Regions from separate parts of the Homo sapiens genome. Here region 1 is linked to region 2. A link means that fine-mapping ties the variant in region 2 to the expression of a gene that starts in the linked region. Tissue or cell type: whole blood. Region 2 holds a variant in brackets; the other region holds the start of a gene. All regions are shown on one strand. Distances are between the middles of the regions. Region 1 holds the start of RHOU (ras homolog family member U). Region 2 has its middle 39 kb from the start of RHOU.

Region 1 (12,301 bases), 39 kb after region 2:
ATGCTCAGCAATCAATGTGGTATTTCAGAATGTCACTTGTGAGGCTTCTGTAAGCGAAAGTTGAAAAAGTATGACTTAGCCAAATGTGGTGGCACGTGCCTATAGTCACAGTTACTTGGGAAGCTGAGGCAGGGGGATCACTTGAGCCCTGGAGTTTGAGACCAGCCTGGGTGACATACCAAGACCCTGCTCTCTAAAAAAAATTTTTAAAAAGAAAAATAATGACTTAAGTTTCTTCATGCCAACTTTGTGATGAATAAATAAACACAGAAACACAGCCAGGTAGACTATGGCTCAGTCATGAAGATCTTTTAATGGAATGCTCCCTCTGTTCTTAGAGGGCCTCAAAGAAAGAAGCATAAAACTGAGACCAGTATTAAGGCAGCCCCCTCAGGTAGCTGCACCCCTGGCCATGCCCTGGTATCTGGGGTTGCATTACTGAGAAAAATAAAGGCAAGCACAAGGGCTGGGACTTCTGAGGGGGCTTTGGAAAGCTATCTCCCCAGATCTCTTGAGATTCTGGCTAAGGGGCTTGAGAAATAAAACAGAAATTAGACCCTCCTGCTCAGTGCCTGACCTGAAATCTTAGAAATAATGCAATACACACGTGCAATGAGGACAACTGGAATGCACCCTTAAGAAAAGGCGTTCTGAGGCCAAGCAATTTGCATGTGCTTGCCAGGTCTGTGGTACGGACACTGCACAGAAGTCTGATCAGGGTTGGCGGGGCAGAGAGACGAGACTGGATTCTACATCCCTCTGGTCTAGCTGCAACTTGATTTTTTTTTTTCAGTATAAGATTTTTCCAAGTACTTTATGGGTCAAAAGGCTGAAGAATTTTCAGCTTCTATTGGCAACTCTCCAGTGAACTACTCCTATTTCCGCAATACTTTTTTCTCTTATGCCAAAGGTATGTTTTTTCAAGCCTCCAGTCTGTCTCTGATCAATCTGCCCTTGAGTGATGTAAGACCAGTGTTAAAAACTCCTTTTGACATCTTATAGACTCGCCTACCCTCCCTAACAAGAAAAGCCAAAGTACAAGAAGTGATTTCTTCAGCATGTAGAGCCATCCATACTCTGCTCCCATCAACTTCTGTGGGAAACCCACACTCCAGCTCCACATCCCCAAGTTCTAGCCTATCTGTGCTCACGTTGATTCTCCAGGCATCTGAAGTGGAGGTCAGTGGAGTCACTTAACCCTCAAGGCTCTTATGTCAACTGCCTAGAAGAGGTATGTGTTCCTTCCTCCATAAGGAAACTTGGCAGGTATCACAGCAAGTCCCTTAAAATGTATTTTATCAGATCAGGACTAGGGAGAGTAGAAAAGAACTGCCACTTTGACCAGCTTGGCTAGTAGTCTAAACAAAGACTAATTTATAAATGGGGGATCAGGAAAACAAAAACAGAACAACTGACTTATCTTACCAGCAGCTTATTTTTCATAGTTTTTGAAGATGGTTCTTCTTCAAAAGTTTTGAAGTTGGTTCTAAAAGTCTACAAATTTTTAGATAGTGGTCTTATTCATTATTTAATTGGGTATACTCTTCTAACCAGTACACAAAGGTTAAGAAATACAGTAAATCTCATTGAAAATATTGCTAAGAGGCCAGAAGAATAATTTTCAAATAAACTGAAACTTACAAATGTAGCACCAAAACCTTCGTTTTTCCCTAATTATAAACTTTTTTGTGCAAAAATACTACTAAAGTGATGCTTGTGCTTCCCTGATTTTTAAACAGGAACAATTTAACTCTTCCTTGATGATTCAGTCATTTATGCAAAGTTCTTCTGGTAAAATTCCTATTTGTCTTTCAAAACTCTGCTCAGAGGTTTTCCTGCCAGGCCCAACCAGCCTGCACCTCTAAGCCCGAACCTCTTTTCTTCCCTTTGCTTGCTCCTTCACGAGCTTCCATTTGTCTTCCCTCCACACTGTAAGTCTATTAAGGGGCAGGCCCACAACTTATGTTTATACCCCCACCACCTGGTCCTTCTCTGGTTCATCCATTCTAAAACCACGAGATTAAGCCCTGCTATGTGCCAGGCACTATGCTGGGCACTGGGCATGAAACCCCAGCTCAAGAAGCTGCATCCTGCTTGAAGAGCCAACACTTACGGGGAGCCCAGTGGACAGTGATATTTGAGTGACATCCTGGGGCAGGTAGGTGCACTGAGCTTCTGCTCCAGCCCGTAAGGCTCCCTGCTAACTGTGCCTTTGGACTTCCTGTATTTTCCTGACTTCCATCTTATCCTCAGGGTCTGACTTCAGCAGGTCCGATGGCTATGTTTACTGACATGTTCCTCTGCCTGTGTTTTATTTTTTTTGAGATGGAATCTCTCTCTGTCAACCAGGCTGCAGGGCAGTGACGCGATCTCAGCCCACTGCAACCTCCGCCTCCCAGGTTCAAGCAACTGTCTGCCTCAGGCTCCTGAGTAGCTGCTATTACAGGCGCCCGGCACCACACCCAGCTAATTTTTGTATTTTTAGTAGAGACGGGGTTTCACCATCTTGGCCAGGCTGGTCTTGAACTCCTGACCTCATGATCCACCCGTCTCAGCCTCCCAAAGTGCTGGGATTACAGGCGTGAGCAACCGCGCCTGGCTGGCCATGTTTTAAAACTCAGAAAACCTGACCCCCTGGTAGACAAAGCATCCTCACTTCATACAAGGAAATGAAGCTTGAATTATAAATATCACCATTGCATTCAGAAAGATTCAGTGCTAGAAGTGACTGTATTCTTTGATTTTTCTTTTTTTTTACCCCCAAGAGATGGGATCTTGCTCTGTCGCCCAGGCTGGAGTGCAGTGGCACCATCATAGCTCACTACAGCCTCAAACTCCTGGGTTCAAGCGATCCTCTCACCTCAGCCTCCTGAGTGGCTGGTGGCTGGGACTACAGACAGTGCCACCACACCAGGCTAATTTTTTTATTTTGTAGAGATGATGTCTTGCTATGCTACCCAGGCTGGTCTCAAATTCCTGGCCTCATGCAATCCTCCCACCTCAGCCTCCCAAAGAGCATGAGCCACCACACCCAGCCTGATTTTTGTTTTCTACAGACAATACAATACGGACAGTGCTTGGTTTTTCCAAGCTGAAGTGCTCCCAAGCTATGGCCTGCACCAGCCCGGTGTTCCTTGGAGATCAAGGCTCCACGGTCTTATGTCATCTTCAGGTTTAAAAAATAAGATCTGTCCTTAGCTCTGAATCTGCTGTCCCAGAGTAGGTGAGCAACTTGGAAGCTCTGGCGTAGATGAGGCTCTGGGGGGCAGTGGAAAGCCAGTGCCTTCATAAACACAGATAGTCATGTGATGGCACCTCAGAAAGTGAAGGGGGCACTTTCACCTGCCTACAAAGTACCCCCGGAACTTTGCTGAACTCTAGAACATACTAGAGAGACAAGTTCATTAACTATCACTTTGCCAAAATCAAGTACCCCTGGGTGTTCACAAGGCACAGCCTGACTTCAATGACTCGAGTACCCACCAATGGGGGCTTCTTCTGGGGAACACAAAGAGGGAACCCTACACTCCCTGGCTATTTCCTCCAAGGGCCCAGCCCTCGAGACAAGAACCAGCGTTCACAGTTTGGATAGAATAAGCCCAGTTAGTTCATCCCTCCAGCTTAGGACTGCTCTGACAAATGTATCTGTGCTTCAAGTGATGGGGCTGGTCCTAGCGAGTCAAACCATAGCTCAGGAAGGGAAATATTAACCCTTACTGATGTAAATTCCATCTTTTTCTTGAGCAAATTTCTTCAATATCTGACTCACTGGCCTTTAATAAAACGATTATAAGACATCACTAACTTAGTTTGGGAAATGATGACAAAGCATCACTGAAATTTTTTCATAAAAACCAGGGAGTAAGTAATAGAAACTCCTACAAGAGCTGTTCTTGACACTGCTTCCTCCCTTGCCTGGTTACGCAGAGCTGGGCCAAACCCTGCTTTATTAGTTTGGAGGTATCTTCCTCTGCTTCCTGCCGGCCAATAACCTGGCCCCTGCCCACCCTCAGAGAAGGGCCAACAGCAGGGGTGGGTCCACTTCATGAGGCTTTAGAATGACCCAGTTACTGACTGAGGGAATCAAAGGTTATTTGGAAATCTTTAAAAGGCTGTTTCCTTTCCCAGCACTGAGCTGTAACGTGATACTGACCTGTCCGGCAGTGTCACAGAGTTGGAGTCTCACGGGCCGCCCATCCACAGACACCACCGCTTAAAAACAAAACCAAAATGACAATCAGGAGGTGTCTTTTAACCCCTTTCGGAATACTAATAGTTTTAGCTTTCACTATCATTCTCACTCCAAACCCCTTTGCTCCTATTTTAGGTCCTCTAATGAATTAAAGACTAGCCAAAAACAAGGAGGCCCTGTGGAGGCATTTTTGTATACAAACCCACGGCTGGCAAGTCACTCCATTACCGTGAACCAGGCAGCAAATCCCTGAACGCTTTGATGGTGACCCTAAAAAGGCCTATGCTTTTCTCCCAGTCCTGGAAGATTTATTTTCCTGTCACACTTGTTTCAAAGGACCTAAAAACAACACTGGGGGTAAATGGGAAGCAACCCTGCAGTTTTAAATCAGTGGAAAACCTCACAAATAATTCTGTTTTCCCTTGGGAAAGGTTCCCCAACTTCAGGGTTTATCATACAATTCTAGTGTGTTTTGAGAACATGTGCAAACACAGGCTGCCCGCATTGTCCTGTTTAAGAAATGAGGGCACTCCTTATCTCTATGTCAGGTCAAAAGGAGGATTAAAAAAGAAAAAAGAAAGCCATGGCCCCCTTTCCACTGGGATCCGGGGACTCGGGGAGTGTGGAGAGGCCTGCAGCAGGACATGTTGTGGAGGTTTCTATTTTAATTAAGCAGTCAGTTTTGTCTCTTTCTACACAACTTTCTAATTGTTTCTAAATATTTATACTAGTCAGCTGCAGGGGTGGGGTGGGGGGAGGGGAAGAAACAATACCCTGCGGTGGGAACCCACCAGTACAGCACCCATTTCTCTAAGGTACCTTTGGGATGAAAGGAAGGTCAGAGAAGCAATTTTTTTTTAAAGAAGCAAGACAGTTAAGTGTTTCATACTAGTTTCTGTGAATTTTAACTTTTTCTTAAATTTCAAAAAGACCTGAATAGCAAGATAGAGAATTCCTTTCTCTTTGTATCTACCAAGGGAAATGGCATCGCACCCGGTACATAGGAGCTTTAAGTAGCTTAAAGGGATCCTGAAAAGATACCAACAATCAGAATCCGAGCCCATGTGGGCAGGGAAGGTGGTGGGGCTCAGAAGAAAGAAATGGTGTTTACTCTTCAGGTTTCATCCAAACCTAAGCCTTCACGAGGGCCGCTCGCGCTTTTTCACTAAATCAAGTGTTTTCCCGGCGTCTCCGCGGCTCTTTAAAGCGGAGACGCCCCTTGTGAGCTGAGCCGCCTAAAAGCAAAGGAGCGACGCTCAGGTAAAGGCACCTGCGCGTCACCTTCTGATTGAAACTCTGCAGCGGCGCCAGCGACGTCGCCCTCAGGAAACTTTGCTCTATGCAACAAACTGACCGGGCACCCTGAACTCAACCTGTTTCACTCCTACTTATCTGTTGCTTAAATTGTGAGATTTTTTTTTTTTTTTTTTTTGGCAAGGCTCTGACTGCCGCTCCGCCCTCCTCTCTCCAAGCCCACTCCGCCGTGGTCCTTTCGTGTTAGCTCCGCGCTTGCCCGGTCCCTGAGACTCAGGAAACGTCCTGCACTCCTCATTTGTCCGGCTTCCCAGCTGGAGCCGCGCCCGGGGCCCTGCAGCCCCCTTGGGAACCTCGCGACCCTCGCGCCACCTTCCTTCCCCTGGGTGGACCGCGGCCACGCGCCCCCGGCCCCGGCCCCCCGGCCAGCTCACCGGAGAAGTTGTCGAAGGCAGTAGGGATGTACTCGGTGGGGTAGCCGTTGGTGGTGTAGCTCACCACCAGGCTCGTCTTGCCCACCGCGCCGTCGCCGACCAGCACGCACTTGACGCCGCGCCCCTCGGCACCCCCCGCACGCCCCCGGCCCCCCGGCTCCCCAGGCCCGCGTCCCCCGCGTCCACCGCGCTCCCGACGCGGCGGCACCGGAGGCGCCTCGCAGCGGTCGGGGAACGCGGGGTCCCCCTGCTGCGGGGGCATCGATCCGCGAGCGCGGGCTTGCGGTCGCGGGCTAGCAGGGCCCGGCCCGACCGCCCCTCCGCCCCGGAGGGTTGCGGTAGGGAGGAGCTGTCACCGACAGCTGCGGGCGCGTCCCCGGCCCTGGAGAGTGGCGGTTCCGGGCCGCACGGCCAGTAGACAAAGGCGGCCAGGGAGGGTCGTGGCTCCGCGCTCCGGCGGCGCCAGCCGCTCTGCCCTGCGCTGTTGGAGGACAGCGGTCCGAGCGCCGTGGATCCCAAGCGCTCTGTCTCCGCCCGGCTTCCCGGCGACACGACGCGTGGGGGGCGGGCAGGCGGGCGGGCTGGCGGGGAGGGAAAAGAGGCGGGTCTGGCCGAGCGGCTCGGTCCCCGCGCCAAGACCACAGCGCCCCCCGCCTGCGCGCCGCGCGCCTGCACCCGCGCCCGAGGCGCCGCCGCGACCAGGCGGGGACTGCGAACACTGGCGCGGGAGGACCTGGAACACACGTTCCGGGGGACCCCGCGCACCCGGTCCGGGAAGCGACGCCCGAAGGAGCCGGGCCAGCCTCCGCAGCCTCCTCCCCAGCTCCCAAGAGGGTGACCACCGCGCGACTGGCCCGGGAGGTTCCGCTTTCTGGCGCCCACGCGAGCCAGGAAGCCTGAGCCGCCTCCTATTCACTCCGTGGAGCCCCCGGCTGGCCACGGCTCCACCCAGGGGGAAAAATGAAGTGTCCTGGAGGCCTGTCCTGCGAATGAGATTGAATTAACAGACAGCTTTTTTCCTTAAGTCTAACTGCAGCTGATCGTGTGATTTTTTCTCATTTTGAAGCAAAAGGATGCCAGCTCCATTGTGAATGCTCCTTTGACTTTGTCTTTCGGCATGCCGTGAACCTTTATACATGTATGCTCCAGAAATTTTTTTATACCCCCAATTCCTTCATTTACTTAAAGGTAATTCGGAGACATTAATATGTCTGAAAAAATATTCCGTTTCCCTTTGATTCATTTCTCTCTCTGCCTTCCTTCTACATGTGGTCAACAGTCTATTCAGAAAAAGGACGCCTCTTAGCCAAGTCAGAATACCAAGAGTCCTGGGGGTGTACAGCGTGGTGTGAGAAGGGCCACATATTATTAATACACATTGATACTAGTGGTAGTAAAAATAACAATAACAAATACTGAACTTTCATAATGTGTCAGATACTGTTGTAAGCACTCTTCAAGAACTAATTCTTTTAATCTTAACATTACTTACAGATGAGAACACCTGAGGCACAGAGATATTAAGTAACGTTTTGGGATTCCACAAGCTAGTAAGTGGCAATGCCAGGATCCAAACCCAAATAGTCTAGCCCCAGAGCCTGAGCTTCTAACCAAAATCCTGGAGGCAAAAATAAGTCAGTATGATAAACGTAATCTTGAACGTATGGCCATGGTCAGAATGCAGAGATGGATTTATCAAGAAGTTAGAAGCTTGAATCCAGGACCCCTGACTTGCAAAGGACACTTTCACATTGGAAGACCTAGCAATGTGTACACGTGGTAATATGTTTCTGTAAATTTTGAAAAAAAAAAAAGTATTTTAATCACCACCAGTTATGTTCACTGTCTTTTTAAACTGTAACTTACCCTCATATTGAGTGACTTTGAAGAGGCCATGAAGATTTTGGGGATCAGCCAAAGAAAGTGAAGTTGGGGAGACCCAAACAGGTTGTTTGGGTGTAATGGGATACAGAATCAGGATGAAGGTGAGATAAGGGGGATGTCAAGGATGCAAAATTTATGACAAATTGAGCATTCAGAGGCAATATCAAAAAACAACAAATTTAGAGGGCCCTTACTCTCAGGGTCAGGCAAGTGCCAATGTTAAGTTTTGAGCCTCAGGTACCTGACTTGCCTCTCCCTCGCCCTGGCTGTGATGACAGGATATATTTATGTGGTTTACAGTTCTCCTATGTAGATATGTTGTTGCTAGCCATCCAGGTATAGGAATGGCTACCACTGACATACCTATGACCCTCTGTGAGAGTCACATTGGTGCCCTTAACTGTCTTACTTTCCCCAACACTAGAAGGGTTCCAGTAGCAAGAGTAGCAGAGCTTGAGATGGGCAGAGCTGGAAGCTAGTCTGGCAATTCTTTCCATCATAAAGCACCTAATATCGGCTGGTGCGGTGGCTCACGCCTGTAATCCCAACACTTTGGGGGGCTGAAGCAGTCAGACCGGTTGAGGCCACGAGTTCGAGACCAGCTTGGCCAACATGGCGAAACCCTGTCTCTACCAAAAATAAAAAAATTAGCCAGGTGTGGTGACTCACACCTGTAATCCAAATACTCCAGAGGCTGAGGTAGGAGGATCACTTGAGCCTGGGAAGTCGAGGCTCCAGTGAGCCCTTGATCAACCAATATACTCTAGCCTGGGCGAGAGTGAGACACTGTCTCAAAAAGAAACAAACAGAAGAAAACACAACATTGTTAGAGAAGGTTTGGTTCTCTCTACTAAACCTGATCAAAACAGAAGTTGTCTGCTGTCAGAAATGTACCTGTACTCTAAATGCAGCAGATACACTTACAAATGCATCATACATTTTTGGAGAAAAATCACATGAAATGAATGATCTGAATTCCCATGTTTGTAAGGACATGAGGCTGTAGTAGTACAACAAAAAGCAAGTTCACCTGTGTGTGAAGTAACTTCCTATTGTTCTTATAGAAAATATCTTACAAAACTGAAGAAGTGATCAAAGGGTATGCAACTGAAAAATGAAAATAATGTCATAGAAGTGTGTCAAGCAGTTTATTAAAATGTCATGTCTTATGTATTTTGTTTAAGTTTATGGTGTTTGTTAGCCTTTTAAAATTTGTAACTTATTGTGATGCATTTCTCACTTTAAACATTTGTTTTTGTATCTAATTTTCTATTCTTAATTTTGTATTTTTTTTTCTTAATGAAGTCTCACAAATGTGATAAGCCTCAGGCCCTACAAAACTTGGCTTTGCCCCTCCATCTGGCCAGCTGTCAGTTTTTGTGTCCTGTGCGTCCCCCTCTTGCTTTTCCCCTTCTCATGCTGAATATCATCCCACGCCCACTCATTTGGGCCCGTTTTTCTGGACACAACTTAGTCAGCTCCCTGCATCCTTATCTAAAATGCCGGGAACTAATGTTTGCCCTATTCATGAGACTCTTCTGTAGGCAACATAGGAAATCAGACCCCACGCCAAACAGTTCGGTATTTCATCCAAGTCCAAAAGCAGAGAGATGACAGAATGCCTACCACTTTACCCCTTTACAGAATGCCTTTACTTTACCCCTTTTTACGTTGAACTGTCCCGCACCCACTCATTTGGGTCCATGTTTCTGGGCTCGACTTAATCAGTCCCCTACAGCCTTATCTAAAATGCTTGGAACTAATGCTACAAGAAGCCCTCCAAGGTGTGTGGGTTCAAGTTGTATGATATATTTGTTTGTTTATTTGCTTATTGTCTGTCTCCTCTTACAAGCTCCATGAAATCAGAAACTTAATGTTGCTCATTCCTATATCCCACACTTAGAAGCACGTGGGGCAAGTAGTAGGTGCTTAATAAATACTTAAGCAGTGGTAAATACGTAAGTGAAAGGAAAACATGTTTTGAACTTGACGGTTCTGCAAAAAAGAAAGAAAGAAAAGGAGAAGAATGTAAAACATGGACTCTCAAAACATGGACAGTTGTATTTTTATGCTTTTATAAAATATTTTTAGAATGAATGAAGGAAATTTGACCACTTCTTGCAGCTATTAATAGAAAACCATGTCTTTGCTCAGTTTTAAGACAAAAAATGCATTACACCTCATGTATTCCCATTTGTTTTTCACCAAGACAGTACAACGCCTTCATTGTGCAGTGGGCCTAGAAAATTCTGAAAACTGGGTGCAGAATTTCCGTTCTTAAGATCTTGTCTCTCTGAGGCCCTCCAGCCCAGCTGTGAGCATTCATCCCCCCTACCTACCCCCAACACCTCCTCCAGGACTTCCAGCAACCCACCCCTGGGTCCCCAACAACATGTCAGAGAAGGTGTCTTCTCCTCGAACTACAGGTCTGTAACCCCTTCCTCCTTCTTCCATGAACTTGCTCTTTCTCCGCTTAGGTGTCACCTCCTCCAAGGATGTTTATTTTTCTGCCTAATTTTCTATACTTAATTTTGTGTTCTTTTTCTTAATGAAGTCCTCAAAATGTGATAAGCTTCAGGCCCGACAAAACTTGGCTTTGCTTCTCCATCTGGCCATCTGTTCGTTTTTGTGTTCCATAGCCTCCCTCTCTTGCTTTACCCCTTTTTATGTTGAACTGTCCCACACCCACTCATTTGGGCCCATCTTTCTGGGCTCAACTGAATCAGTCCCCTACAGCCTTATCTAAAATGCTCAGAACTAACGCTTGCCCTATTCATAAGAATCTTCTACAGGCAACGTAGGAAAGCAGACCTCCACACCAAACAAATTGGTGTTTCATCCAAGTCCAGAAATGTTCCCTGACCCCTTATGTGGATATATTTGTGCTTGTCCCTATCACAGCCCTTATCTAGTGAAATCATCTACTGATTATACAACACCTACCCTTGCTCATAATCCCCTAAAAGGGAGGATCCCCAGTTCACAAAACTCTTCCCCTAGCACAGTATTAATACATTTTCTAGGATTTTTTCCATCAAGTTATTTTAACTGTTCCACTAGCAAATAATTAATAGTGAATTTGTAGTTTTTTACTAAAATGGTAAAAAGAAAAAAAGGTCCTAATAGACTTTCCACTGTGTACATGTCACTTTTGTATCTTTTGATATATTTAAGAAATAAATAAATTTTTATCTGCTCAACATATTCCTTGCCAGGTGTCATTGTCATCATCATATTAAATATAAAGCTGTTTTTCCTGCTATTGATAACATTTCACCATTTACTGAGTACCAAATCAGAACAGCACGGTTTTTTTGGATCTTTCATTTTAGCAGGTCATATAACTCTGTGTGTTCATTCACTCTTTAAATGGTAACCCTTTGCCTTGGACACATTAATCTGATTTCTTTCCTTCAGCAGTGCCCTAGTTTTTTCAATACCCTATAAGAGGACATCAGAAGAATATTTCTCTAGAACTGGAGACTCTAAGCTGGGTTGTCTATTGCCAGCATGGCTGTCTGCTCCCAGAATTTCCTTCTTTGTATGGTTCTCGGCTAAAGTTGTCCGGAGACATGATTCTCAGAATTGAGAAGACTGAAGGGAAGTGGAGGAGGGTCATATGGTCAAACATGCCAGTGGATGGACACAGCGGTGCCCAGCACATCCTCACTAGCCTCCTGCTTTGCAGTGATATCATCTCACTGCTGGCTCTGCTGACCCAGAGCAGCCTTCAGCCCTCACCCAGCCCCTGGGCCCCAAAGAGGCTGCAGTCCCTACACCTCATGCCTCAAGCTTCCCTTCCACAGCCTCCAAGGGCCATATCTGCATAACTTACTATTGGCTTTTCTCCAAGTTCCCACCAGTATCCTGCACAAGGGTTTCAGCTGGTCAGGGTTAGGCACTGTTTCCCTCTGAACTTCCCCAGCAATTCCCAAACTTGTGAAAGCTCTCCTTCCTTAACCCTGTACCTTGGAGTGGCTCTGATTTCCTGACTGGGCCCTGACCAATAGTTTCTTGTTTACCACTGGGGATGTCATCCTAGGAAAAAAAAATGACAAGGAAAATGTCTTGCCATGTTTCACTAGAAAAGATGGGGAAATCATATAAATGTCACCAAACCACCAAATGGGCCACCAGTGGCTCCTTTCAGGAATCACAAACATCAGTTAGTGTCATGGTAAGGGCTCAGACCACATGGTTGGTTGGATGTGCTGATACTAGTTTCCCTGCCTCCAGAAGTCCTTTTATCACCTGCCATCACCTTGTAGATAACTAGAATGGATAAATTAAGCTCTTCCATTGGTATCATGAAAGTTTAAGATGTAAAAATCAATCCTTAATTTTGATTGTAAAAATTATTTCTGAAACTGTTTATGTTGTTTTATACTAGTCAGATTAGGCTGTACTATGCTGCAATAATAAGTGAACTCAAAATTTCAATGTCTAGAAACATAGGAGTTAATTTTTTGGTCATGCAAAATTCACAGCAGATTTAGTAGCTCTCCAAGGCAGCTCCCTTTCAAGTGGAGACTCAGGG
Region 2 (12,301 bases):
TGGTGACACACACCTGTAGTCTTAGCTACTCAGGAGGATAGCTTGAGACCAGGAGTTTGAGACCCGTGAGGTATGATCATGCCATTGCACTTCAGTCTGAGTGACAGAGCAAGATCCTGTCTCTATTTTTTAAAGACTTGCTTCATTTCTGTTCATTTTCTATTCTTCATTATTCAATTTGTTTGGTTTTGTGTGCTTTTGGTTCCTACTTTTGTCTTACTCCTTAGGTGGGCCACCCAACATGGACCTTAGTCCCCTGGGGGCTCAGCACTTCCCTGGACACCAATCACGCCCTAATTGGACTCCACCCTGATTCTCTACCCATGGGGCTGGAGGGGGAGATCTTTTGAAACACCATAGGATGGACGAAGCCCTAGGTTTTTCTCCAGTGCTTGTGAAAATGCAGATTCTGGGGCCACACTCCAGACTTCCAGAATTAGGATCCCTTAGGAGTAGAGCCAAGGAATCTGCATTTTACAACCTCTCCAAGTGTGTCTTACACCTACTGAAGTTTGAGAACCACAAAATCTAGATTTTAGAGGGACCAACTTCTCCAATTTATGTCAGATAGGATTTGTGCTAAATGCTTCAGAAGCCCAGCGAAGCCTTGATTGAGATAAGACTGTCCCCTCAATGTCACTGCAGAGGCTTTCTCTAGTTATTTCTGTTCAAAAATGGCTCATATTTTTTGAGCAGTTAACATACCAGGTTAAACCCCAAATTAATCTTTCCAACAACCCCATGACATAAGTACAAGAAACTAAAGCTGAGAGAGGTTGAATGGCTTGCCCAAGGTCACACAGTTCATCACGGAGTTAAAATCACAACTAGATTCTGCCACATACAAATATAGGAAAGCTGGATCAGGTGGGTAGCCTGGCTTGGGTCAGCCTCCAGTGTCTGCAAATACACAGAATTCTGATTCCTAACTTCATACAGACAGCCCCTTAGCATAGAGCTTAAAGCAGGGGAACAACAGAGAGGGAAAGGATGGCCTCAGAAAGATGCTCATGTGGATAGTGTGAGTTCTAAGATCAGCAAAAGGGACTCAAGTCAATCTATGTGGGGATTCCAGCTGGGTTGGGCGCTAACTCTATCTCAAAGCTCTCAAACTGGGCTACCAGGCAGGGAGAAGTCAATGTCCAGTGATGTCTAGTAAATTTGATTAGGGTGGAGACCAAAATCAGGAAATTCAATTCAAATAACTGCCCCTGCCATTAAAATATTGCATGTTTTTAGCTGAATTATTCAGAATTTTCCAGATAATCACCCTACATTATTAATGACCTCAGTATATGTCACTTTTGGCTCTCAATACATATCTAAGCAACTCTTTCTCAGTAACCCTGTGATTCTGAGAGAAGAAAAAAGTGGACTCAAGGAAGTCCATGGGGAAACCTGGAAGGAAAGCATGAGCCAGCTCTGTTTGGCCTTACCCTTGGCTGTCCCAGGGAGAGTCATGCATCTGCTGTGTAATGCCACCAGCAGCCATGCATTATGCAAGTCTGACCTACATTATGGTATTGAGACATAACTGCTATAATAGCAGGCAAAGTTTAATGTTCCTTGAAATTTTTTAAGTTATATTTTTGTCAGAGAAATACATATATAAAGGTTTTTTGAAATTTTTTTCTCTTAAAAAAATGAGATGGGGCCAGAAGGCAGGGGTGGGCAGTGGTCATGCTATGTTGCCCAGATTGGTCTCGAACTCCTGGGATCAAGGAATCCTCTTGCCTCAGCCTCCTGAGTAGCTGAGACTAAAGGAACACTCCACCAAGCCCGGCTTTACATAAAGGTTTTTACATTCAAATATACCACAAGTCCTGGAAATTAAAAAAGAAGTTTCCTGACACCGTTTCCTCTACCCTGAATTCCAACCCCCAGAGGTGACTCTTTTGTGTTGTTTTGTTTTGGAGACAGAGTCTCAGTCTGTTGCCCAGGTTGGAGTGCAGTGGTGTGAAAACAGCTCATTCCTGGGTTCAAGCAATCCTCTTGCTTCAGCCTCTATGACTATTGGCACGTGCCACCATTCTCAGCTAATTTTTTTTTTTAGAGACCAGGGCAGGGGGAGGGGGGAGGGAGTGTCTCACCATGTTGCCCAGGCTGTCTTGAACTCCTGGCCTCAAGTGATCCTCCCATCTCAGCCTCCTGAAGTGCTGAGATTATAGTTGTGAGCCACCACATCTGGCCTCTTTTAGCTTTTCTTTGGAATTTTTAGGAATTTTCTTAGGAATTTTCCTTTGTATTTTTAAATGATACACTTATATGGTTGTGGGTTTTTTCTTCATTTTATAATTTTAAGCATCATCTACTGACTTCCTATTACATAAGATTGGAATCCAGCTCTTACATCAACATATCCCCCTTCCCACCCACTGCCTGTACTTCCTCACTCCCATCCTCTTAAAGTAGTTATGTCACAAGTTTTGGCTCAATCAATATGTAATGTTTACTTTATTTACAACCATGTGAATATGGCTCAAGGCTGAGCCACATAATATACTATAAATACATTTTGTTACTAGCACAACATTGTTTTTCCAGAGATAGTATGTTCTTTTCGTTTGTGCAGTTTTCTATGTACCTGTCACTTATTCCTAATCAAATTCTTCAAACAAAGCTACAAAATTCCTCTGAATAAAATATAGACAAAGGTATCAGATAATACACCTTTTTTTTTTTTCTTGGAAACATCCCTCCTGAAGCCTCCTATCTTCTTGACCCACCTGCACAGGCTGTTCCCCAGGCCTGGCCCACACACCTGGGGCTCCACCCAGCACAACCTGGGAACTCCCTGTGACTCTCTCCTGTGTGGGATCTGAATCCCAAATCATTTTTCTCAATTTATTTCTTCTTTTGATTAAGTTTATTAAGAAGTGTGCATGGAAAATACATGTTTTTTAGACCTTGCCTGTCTGAAATTGTCTTTGTCGTGCCATCTGACTATACCCAGTTAACTGCATATAGAATCCTAGGATAGATGTCATTTTCCCTCAGAAATTTGAAGGCCTGCTGCTCAGTTTCCGAGCTTCCAACAGGACTGTTGAAAAGTCCAATAGCATTTGAATTTTCATTCTCTGTATATGAGCTACGTTTTCCTCTGTGGAGCATTTTTAAATCTTTTTATCTCAGCCTCTGAGAACACATGCTGACATACCTTGCTGCTGGTGTTTTGCACTCATCGTGTGCTGGCATGTGGTAGATACACCCTGAGGCCTTGTGTCTTTCATTTCTGAAATTTTTACTTAAATGACATCTTTGACAAACTCTTCCCTCCATTTCCCTCGTTCTCACTTGGAATTCCTTTTAGTAGGATGTTGGGCCTTGTGGATAGACCATTTAATTTTGTCTTTTTCTCCTATTTTTAAAATGCCTTTGTATTTTTGTTCCAGTTCCTAGAAGATTTTCTCATCTTTATCCTACAGTATTTCTTTTTAATTTTTTTCCACATTAAATTTTGTTTTAATGGGCTGAAAATTCTGAGGCCAATTTTTGGTCACGTTGTTTCCATTTTAAAACATCTATTTTGAAATCTAAAAATTTAATATTACTGTGAAACAACTAGTCCACAAAACATTCTTTTCCTTTTGAAGCTTTTATGGTCCATTGTACCAGTAGCCGATGTTTTACCCTTGAACACAAATGACTCAAATTGTCCATCAGGACAAATGGTGCCGAGTCAATTCTGGGTCAGATTGAGACTAGGGCACAGATGTGGGATGGAATATTCTTTTAACCTCAGATTTCTGGATGGACATTTTGTCTTGCTGCCTCCATCAGCCTTCTTGTTAACTGTCTTCATGACACCCACAGCTGCAGACTCTGTCATATCTTGACAGCAAAACTATCTCAGGTCTGAGAAGCTCTTTATACTTGTGACCCTGGCAGGAACCACACCAACTGCAATATCATCACCAGACTTCCAGATGTTGTGCCTTTTCCAGCTTCTTGCCACATCAAACTTCTCCTTGCAAACAACGGAGCAGTGTGGCCACTCAGCCTGGGGGTTGGCCAACTCTGATTAGGCCTGGATGGCCCAGGGTTCTCATCTATGCAGCAAAGTTGGAAGCTTCCACAGCAGGGAGAAGCCATTCCTTCTGCAATGAACATCGCTGATGGACAGGTTTCTGATGCTGAAGTCTATGCTGTCATGAGGCAGAACTTTGCTGTAAGCAAAGCATTTCAATAGAAGTTGCCTCGGTCGTTGTTTTGACTTGGAAAAAGTGACCACCAGATCTGCACCTAGAGTACCAGTCACCACTTGACCCATGGGGACAGCACCAATTGTCCTGGAGGAGTGGACACCTCTGTCCTGTCGGTTTCACGCAGTCGGTTTCACGCAGTCGGTGGTGCACTCCCACAGCACCAGCATTCTCATGGTGATGTTAGCACACAGCTCCCGCATTTTGTCACCTGAAAGTGATGCCAATGCTACTGTGTGGGTTATGGTAACTTTTTTTTTTTTTTTTTTTGAGGCAGAGTCTCACTCTGTTGCCCAGGCTGGAGTGCAGTGACGCAATCTCGCTCACTGCAACCTCCATCTCCCGGATTCAAGCAATTCTCCTGCCTCAGCCTCCTGAGTAGCTGGGATTACAGGTGCATGCCATCATGCCCAGCAAATTTTTGTATTTTTAGTAGAGACAGGGTTTTATCATGTTGACCAGGCTGGTCTTGAAATCCTAGCCTCAAGTGATCCACCTGCTTTGGCCTCCCAAAGTGCTGGCATTCCAGGCGTGAGCCACCGTGCCGGGCCCTATGGCAACTTTTTAAAAACATACATGGGACTGCTTTGGTGGCTTCCTCATGTTTCTCCTGGCTCAGTGGAATCTGCTTTCTAACACCAGCAATGAATTGTTTCACACCCAAGATGTAAGACAAAGAGCACACTCTAGGTCTGCTAATGCTTTGCATTACCTGCTGCAAATTCTTCAGTGCCACAGCCACAATCAGGAGGGCCGGCCCCAGATGTGCGTGTGCTCATGTTTCGGGTAAAGTCTCTTCCGTATAGTGTTCTGAGATGTGGTAGGCCAAATAACAGCCCCCAGAGATGTCCATGCCCTGGTCCCTGGAACCCTTTACGTAATACAACAAAGGGTGCTTTGCAGATGTGGTTAAGGTTATAGATCTCAAGATGGGGCAATTATCCAGAATTAACTAGGAGGGCACAATCTATGAGCTCTTAAAAGTAGAGAACTGGCTGATGTCAGAGAGATGAGAAGACAGGAGAGATTCAAATCATGAGAGGGACTCCACTCACTGTTGCTCGCTTTGAAGATGGAGAAAGAGGCTAGAGTCAGGGAATGCGGGGGTGGCCTCTAGAAGCTGGGAATGACCCCGCTGATGTCAGCAAGGAAATAGGGACCTCAGTCCTACAATCACAGAGAACTGAATTCCACCAACAATCTGAATGCTCAAGGAAACAGATTCTCCCCTCTTGAGCCTCCAGAAAGGAATGCAGTCCTGCTGACACCTTGAGTGTAGTCCAGTAAGACCCATGGAGAACACATTTCAGATATCACATCTGTAGCTGGGCCCAGTGGCTCGTACCTGTAGTCCCAGCTCCTGAGGCAGGCGTTAGGGAAGAGGGGCTGAGGCAGGCAGGAGGATCACTTGAGCCCAGGAGTTTAAGTCCAGCCTGAGCAACATAGAAAGACCCTGTCCCTAAAATAAGAAAAAAAAACCACACACACAAAAGATAATACATTTGTGTTGTTTTAAGCCACGAAATTTGTGGTATTTTGTTACAGAAGTGATAGTGTGTCCGGAATTGGTGGGTTCTTGGTCTCACTGACTTCAAGAATGAAGCCGCGGACCCTCGCCGTGAGTGTTACAGTTCTTAAAGGCGGCGTGTCTGGAGTTTGTTCCTTCT[G/A]ATGTTCAGATGTGTTCGGAGTTTCTTCCTCCTGGTGGGTTCGTGGTCTCGCTGGCTCAGGAGTGAAACTGCAGACCTTCACAGTGAGTGTTACAGCTCATAAAAGCAGTGTGGACCCAAAGAGTGAGCAGTAGCAAGATTTACTGCAAAAAGCAAAAGAACAAAGCTTCCCCAGTGTGGAAAGCGATCTGAGTGGGTTGCCACTGCTGGCGCCTGCAGCCTGCTTTTATTCTCTTATCTGGCCCCACCCACATCCTGCTGATTGGCAGAGCCCAGTGGTCTGTTTTGACAGGGCGCTGATTGGTGCATTTACAATCCCTGAGCTAGATACAAAGGTTCTCCACGTCCCCATTAGATTAGTTAGATACAGAGTATGGACACAAAGGTTCTCCAAGGCCCCACCAGCGCAGCTAGATACAGAGTGTCCATTGGTGCACTCACAAACCCTGAGCTAAACACAGGGTGCTGATTGGTGTGTTTACAAACCTTGAGCTAGATACAGAGTGCCGATTGGTGTATTTACAATCCCTGAGCTAGACATAAAGGTTCTCCACGTCCCCACCAGACTCAGGAGCCCAGCTGGCTTCACCCAGTGGATCCCGCACCGGGGCTGCAGGTGGAGCTGCCTGCCAGTCCCACGCCATGCGCTCGCACTCCTCAGCCCTTGGGTAGTCGATGGGACTGGGCGCCGTGGAGCAGGGGGCGCCGCTCATCGGGGAGGCTCGGGCTGCACAGGAGCCCACGGAGGCGGGGGAAGGCTCAGACATGGCGGGCTGCAGTCCCGAGGCCTGCCCCGTGGGAAGGCAGCTAAGGCCCAGCGAGAAATCGGGTGCAGCGTCAGCGGGCTGGCACTGCTGGGGGACCCAGTACACCCTCCGCAGCCACTGGCCCGGGTGCTAAGTCCCTCATTGCCCGGGCCGGCAGGGCCGGCTGGCTGCTCCCAGTGCAGGGCCCGCCAAGCCCACGCCCACCCGGAACTCCAGCTGGCCCGCAAGCGCCGCGTGCCGCCCAGGTTCCCGCTCGCACCTTTCCCTCCACACCTCCCTGCAAGCTGAGGGAGCCGGCTCTGGCCTTGGCCAGCCCAGAAAGGGGCTCCCACAGTGCAGCGGTGGGCTGAAGGGCTCCTCAAGTGCCGCCAAAGTGGGAGCCCAGGCAGAGGAGGCGCCAAGAGCAAGCGAGGGCTGTGAGGACTGCCAGCACACTGTCACCTCTCAATAGGAGACGAATAATACACAAGGCATCCATGGTGGTCGCTGAGTACTTGCTGGTCTCAGACTCCCACATGGAGCCATCGGTGGGGATCCATGTTCCTGTTTAGCTGTTAATTTATGAACCAAGTGTGTTTGGAAGCCCTTTGCACATGAGGGTTTATGAGGACCCTCCCGGGTTTAACTGGCTTTTAAAAACTACAGACCTCTGATCTGGGTTTTCTCCTTACTAATCAGAGTACAGGATTCTGTGTGCCTTTCGCTTCTCCTCTATACTAGACTCAGCATCAAGAGGGCTCTGGCTTTGTCCATCTCCCCTGATTTTACCCACACATTACAATGGGTGAGCCCTGCCAGCAGGCAGTGAGGTGCAGGGGAGGGGAAGGGAGGGCACTGGACCCTCTTTAGAAGACAGGTGGGTCAAAAGCACTTAGTTCTCCAAGACCCACAGCATCTCAGGGGGTGGGGCCCTCACATCCCCCAAGCCTCCTTCACAGGTTGTTGTCAGGAAATTAAACGAGATCATTTATGTAAACATTCTCTCTCTCTAGCTTTCTCACTCTCTTGCTCTCTCTCGCCCTCTCTGTCTTGTGTGTGTGTGTGTGTGTGTGTGTGTGAATTCTCTTTTTATTTGTTTAAATTTTTAATGAAATGCAAACTATTTACAAAAAAAGTATACAACTTGCAATGACCTATTTCAGAGTGAATAAACTCAGTATCAAAAATAGAACATCTTCAGCACCCCCAGATGGCCCTTTCCTGCCCCCACATCACTACCCCCAACTCTAACCGCTATAACCACCCCCATCATTACTCCCAATTATAACCACTATAACCACCCCCCATCACTACCCCCGACTATAACCACTCTGGTCTTCTAATGCCACAGATTGGTTTTGTCTGTTTTTGTTTTGTTTTGTTTAGATAACTATTACATAAATAGAATAATAACATATAATCTTCTGGGCCTGGATTCTTTTGCTCAACTTCATGTTTGTGAGGTACATCCATGTTGTTGTGCATATCTGTCATTATTCTGAATGTTTTAAATACAAAACAATAGATAAAATTGGGCTTTCACTATACAGTTCAAATGCCATTTAGGATAATAATTTCTTCCACTTATCTTAAAAGCTACCAGCAGGAGCAATGAATTGTTTGTGTTTTAAACATATTCATGTAATAGATCTAAAATTCTTTACTTTCTGCAAAAGAAATGGCAAGGGAACCATGATTTGTCTGTATCATCATAGCCTGTCAAGTTCTCCAGGTGCCTAATGGGCTTTGTCTGAATGTCTCTTGCCTGCTTCCCTCCCACAAGTCCTGGGGAGGGCCCCTTTGCTCCAGGCAGTCCCTCCCACAAAGAAGCATCCCTGATTACCCTAAGAACAGACAGGAGAACCATAACAGTATCCAATCTTAGATGCTGTTTTTAATCTATATTTATATAGCTGCGAAAATTAGCAGGGCCATGCCATCCATCTCCAAGGGAAATATAAAGATTAAACCGAATAGGAACAGTGTAACTACCTGCTCACATCAGAGTCTACCATCCAGTATAGTTATGAGGTCACTAAAATTAATGAAACTTTTCTTTAGCTAATGAAATAGCCTGTGGCGAGATCAAATACCAATGAAATTTATTAACTTCTAATCTAGGGAGCGGGAGAGCCAAATCAAATTTTACATGCTAATGTTTTCTGAAACAAAGCAAAATCAAAAGCCTCAGCAAAAAGAAATGAGACATTTGGAAGCTTATCAGTAGGCTGCCAACATTGCCTTTCTCTTTTTTTTTTTTTTTTTTTGAGACGGAGTCTCGTTCTGTTGCCCAGGCTGGAGTGCAGTGGCGCAATCTTGGCTCGCTGCAAGCTCCGCCTCCCGGGTTCACGCCATTCTCTGCCTCAGCCTCCTGAGTAGCTGGGACTACAGGCGCCCGCCACCACGCCCTGCTAATTTTTTGTATTTGTAGTAGAGACGAGGTTTCACTGTGTTAGCCAGGATGGTCTCCATCTCCTGACCTCGTGATCCACCCATCTTGGCCTCCCAAAGTGCTGGGATTACAGGCATGAGCCACCGCGCCCGGCCTGCCTTTCTCTTTACCCTCACATCATGCACTGTGCCTAACTGTTGTACCTTGTCGTGTTCTGTGTTAGGAAAGGAATCCCACGGACACTATAAAAAATTCTGTAAAGGAGTAAAGTGCCTAGGACAGATATAATTATTACCTAGCTGGCAATTCATGAGAATAGCAGACAGGTTTTCAGCAGAGAGAAGGCAGATTGATGGCAGCTTGGATGAGCGCAATTCACAGATGCTGTGTTGGATATCCAGGAGCAGGACGCCGGCAGCCAGCACTTTCCCCAAACATTTGTTACTTCATTACCTAATTTCTACTCACCTTTTATTATATTTGCTCTAGAAGTCAATGCACTCTTGTAGCAATGACTCCAACTCAGTGACTCTTTTGTAAAACAAATTCCAATCAGTGGCAATATTTGAAGAAATGAGAATGTAATGATACTGACTACAGACCTGACACTAGAGAAACACGAGACTCTCTCCCAGGGGCATAGCAACACACACTGGGGCCCGCTGGTCCCACAAACTGGTAATTTAGCCCAGCAGATGCAACAAGGCCACTTGGAAACACCAAACTGCATGATCTTGGCTCCTGGCCCAGCTGCTAATTTGTTGAAGGCAGAAGTGACCCTGCGAGCCATTCAAAGGTGTATGTTACTTTGAGAGGAGAAGTGGAAATATAGACTATAAACTGCTCCAAGAAAAAAAAATCAGATGAGAGAGAAGGAAAACTTCTATGCTGTGACAGTTTATTTGTAAACAAAACATCTAAACATATGACTCTGGGAGCTCCCTTTCTTGTGGATCTCAACCACAGATAGTGTACAAGAGATAAGTATATTTTGGAGTTAAAACTGACAGCTTCCATCTCACACCTTTGGACCTCTTTTTATTATTGTTTTCCATTCCAGAATGTTCATGGTAATTTGAATGAACATGGGTTCTGGCTTTCAGATTTTGATTTCTGATGTCTGCCACCATCCCTCCTGAGCACTGTCACCAGATTCCTCTGTGGAGAACAAGGCAACCTGCACCCTTCCACTGACACAGTGGAATCTCTCCACTCGGAGAAGCGCAAGCTTCTCTGCCAAGCACACAGGACCCTTCGCAACCCAACACCACATCTCCCTCCAGTTTCCTTAGTACACCCTCACATAAACCCTTTAGCCTAGCCAGCCAGGCCCCTTGCTGTGTCCCCTGCAGATCATGCATGGTTCTAGGTCTGTTCCATTCCACCCTCCTCACTAGCCTCAATTCTACTGCGTTCTGATAACCTTTTGTAACGCAGATGTTATTCTCTCTGTCCACGGCGCTCCTGGGGCCAGGCAGGCAGTGTAGAAGCATGATACACAAAAAAGGACTTTGTGTTTTAGGGTGTTCCAGGGATCAGACTGGACCAAGGGAGACAGTCACCCAGGATGAGTAAAGAAAAAAATCGAAATCCTAGCCAACGAGTCACACGAGGGCACAGGAGTCTGAGAAGTGGCACTAAGCTTCAGGTCCAAAGGGTGGAAGAAGGCACAGCCACAAATCCCCTAGACACACGGTGGGACTGCACACTGCCACCGTCTGCCACATGGGTTAGGTGTGGCCACAGGTCAATGAAATTGGAAGTGGTAATCCTGAATAAATATTATTTCTCTTTGCTGTTTTGCTTTGTTTTACAGAATATTGGTGCATACCATTTCACTTGATTTCCTTTCTCCGTCTAACTACAGTTGAAAAATTTATTTAGTATTTGGTCACTCCTGGCCACAAGGTATAGACTTCCTTTATTTTCATAATCTCATGATATTGAGTGACAGTATTTGAGAGGAAGAATCTGGTGTGAGCAAGGAGCTCCGAGTTCTTGGGTTAATTCTGTGAGTGGAAATGGCATGCACCTCTTTTTTGTTTAATTTATATAAACACTTTTCTTAAGAATACTTTGATTTGAAGAAAAGTTGCGAGGATAGCATATGGAGTTTCCACATGCCCCTCCCCCAGTTTCTCCTACTAGTAACACCTTACATTTTCTGGCTACCTTTGTCATAGTTAAGGAACCAACTTTGGTGCATTAACTAAAGTGCACATGTTACTCAGATTTCACTAGGTTTCCCCTAAGGTCCGTTTTCTGTCCGGGGTCCCATCCAGGACATCACATTGCATTTGTTTGTCATCTTTTTTTTTAGCCTCCTCTGGGCTGTGGCAGTTTCTCAGACTTTCCTCATTTTCGATGACTTTGACAGTTTTGAGGAATCCAGGGCAGGTATTTTGTAGAATATACTTCAATTTGCGTTTGTCTGATGTTTTCACCATGATTATCAGACTGAGGGTATGGGGTTGGGGTGGGAAGACCACAGAGGAGAGACGCCCTTCTCATCACATCCCATTAAGATCCTGCTACCAATATGTCTCATCACAGATGCGTGTAGACCTTGGTCACTGGGCCGACGTGGTGTTTGCCTGGCTTCCCCATTGCGAAGGCCCCCCGCTTTATGAGGGGAGTACAGTAGGGCACAGCGCATTCTGAGGGCTGGACAGTTAACCCATGCTGCCTTTGTATCTGTCATCTGGAATCCTTCCACACAGGAGGTGTGTCTCTCGGCGCTTGGGCCTCTCTGGGATGAAAGTTTTAAGTGCACACGAAGGCTTTGCCAAGCTCTCTCTTCCTGATGCCATGATGACTATGAACAGCAGCTCCGTGGCCTGGATCCAGAGGGAGGACAATGACACCGTGATGTATAATGTGAACAAGAAATAAATCTTTACTGTTTGAGCCATTGAGACTTTGGGATATTTTTTATGGCACCATAACTTACCTTCTCCAAGGAAGGGTAAAGCAAGGTTATATTCTCAAGGGCAGTAGTCAGGAGGGTGGGGGCCATGAAAGGGACAGTGTGTCTATTAATGGTTTACGACTAACGCTGGAACACAGCCATACGTGGGAGGTCTGCTCTGATATGACGTGGCCTCCACAGACTGGGGTCCAGATGGCACTAAACCCTCTTCCAGAGTGCAGCTTCTCCTTCCAGATCTCTCCTAATCACTGCAACACACATTAGTTTTATCACACTTCAAATCTAAAATAAAATCATCTCCCCTCAATCATAGCCAGTGCCTCCTCCTGACTTTGTATTTCTGCCCCTGGTGCAGTTATCTTCCC

What was found.
Region 1: RHOU starts here. The variant in region 2 is fine-mapped to the expression of RHOU in whole blood (TOPMed, PIP 0.92).

Annotation. Positions count from the first base shown.
Region 1 is chr1:228,729,584-228,741,884 of GRCh38, reverse strand. It overlaps RHOU (ras homolog family member U), which reads right to left and starts at 6,406. Exons shown (of 3, transcript NM_021205.6): 1 at 5,881-6,406; 2 at 4,154-4,212. The coding sequence starts at 6,142.
Region 2 is chr1:228,768,305-228,780,605 of GRCh38, reverse strand. It overlaps the pseudogene LOC100421842. Among named protein-coding and RNA genes, the nearest start is that of RHOU, 39 kb to the right of the region's middle. The variant G/A (reference allele first, on the strand shown) is at 5,870.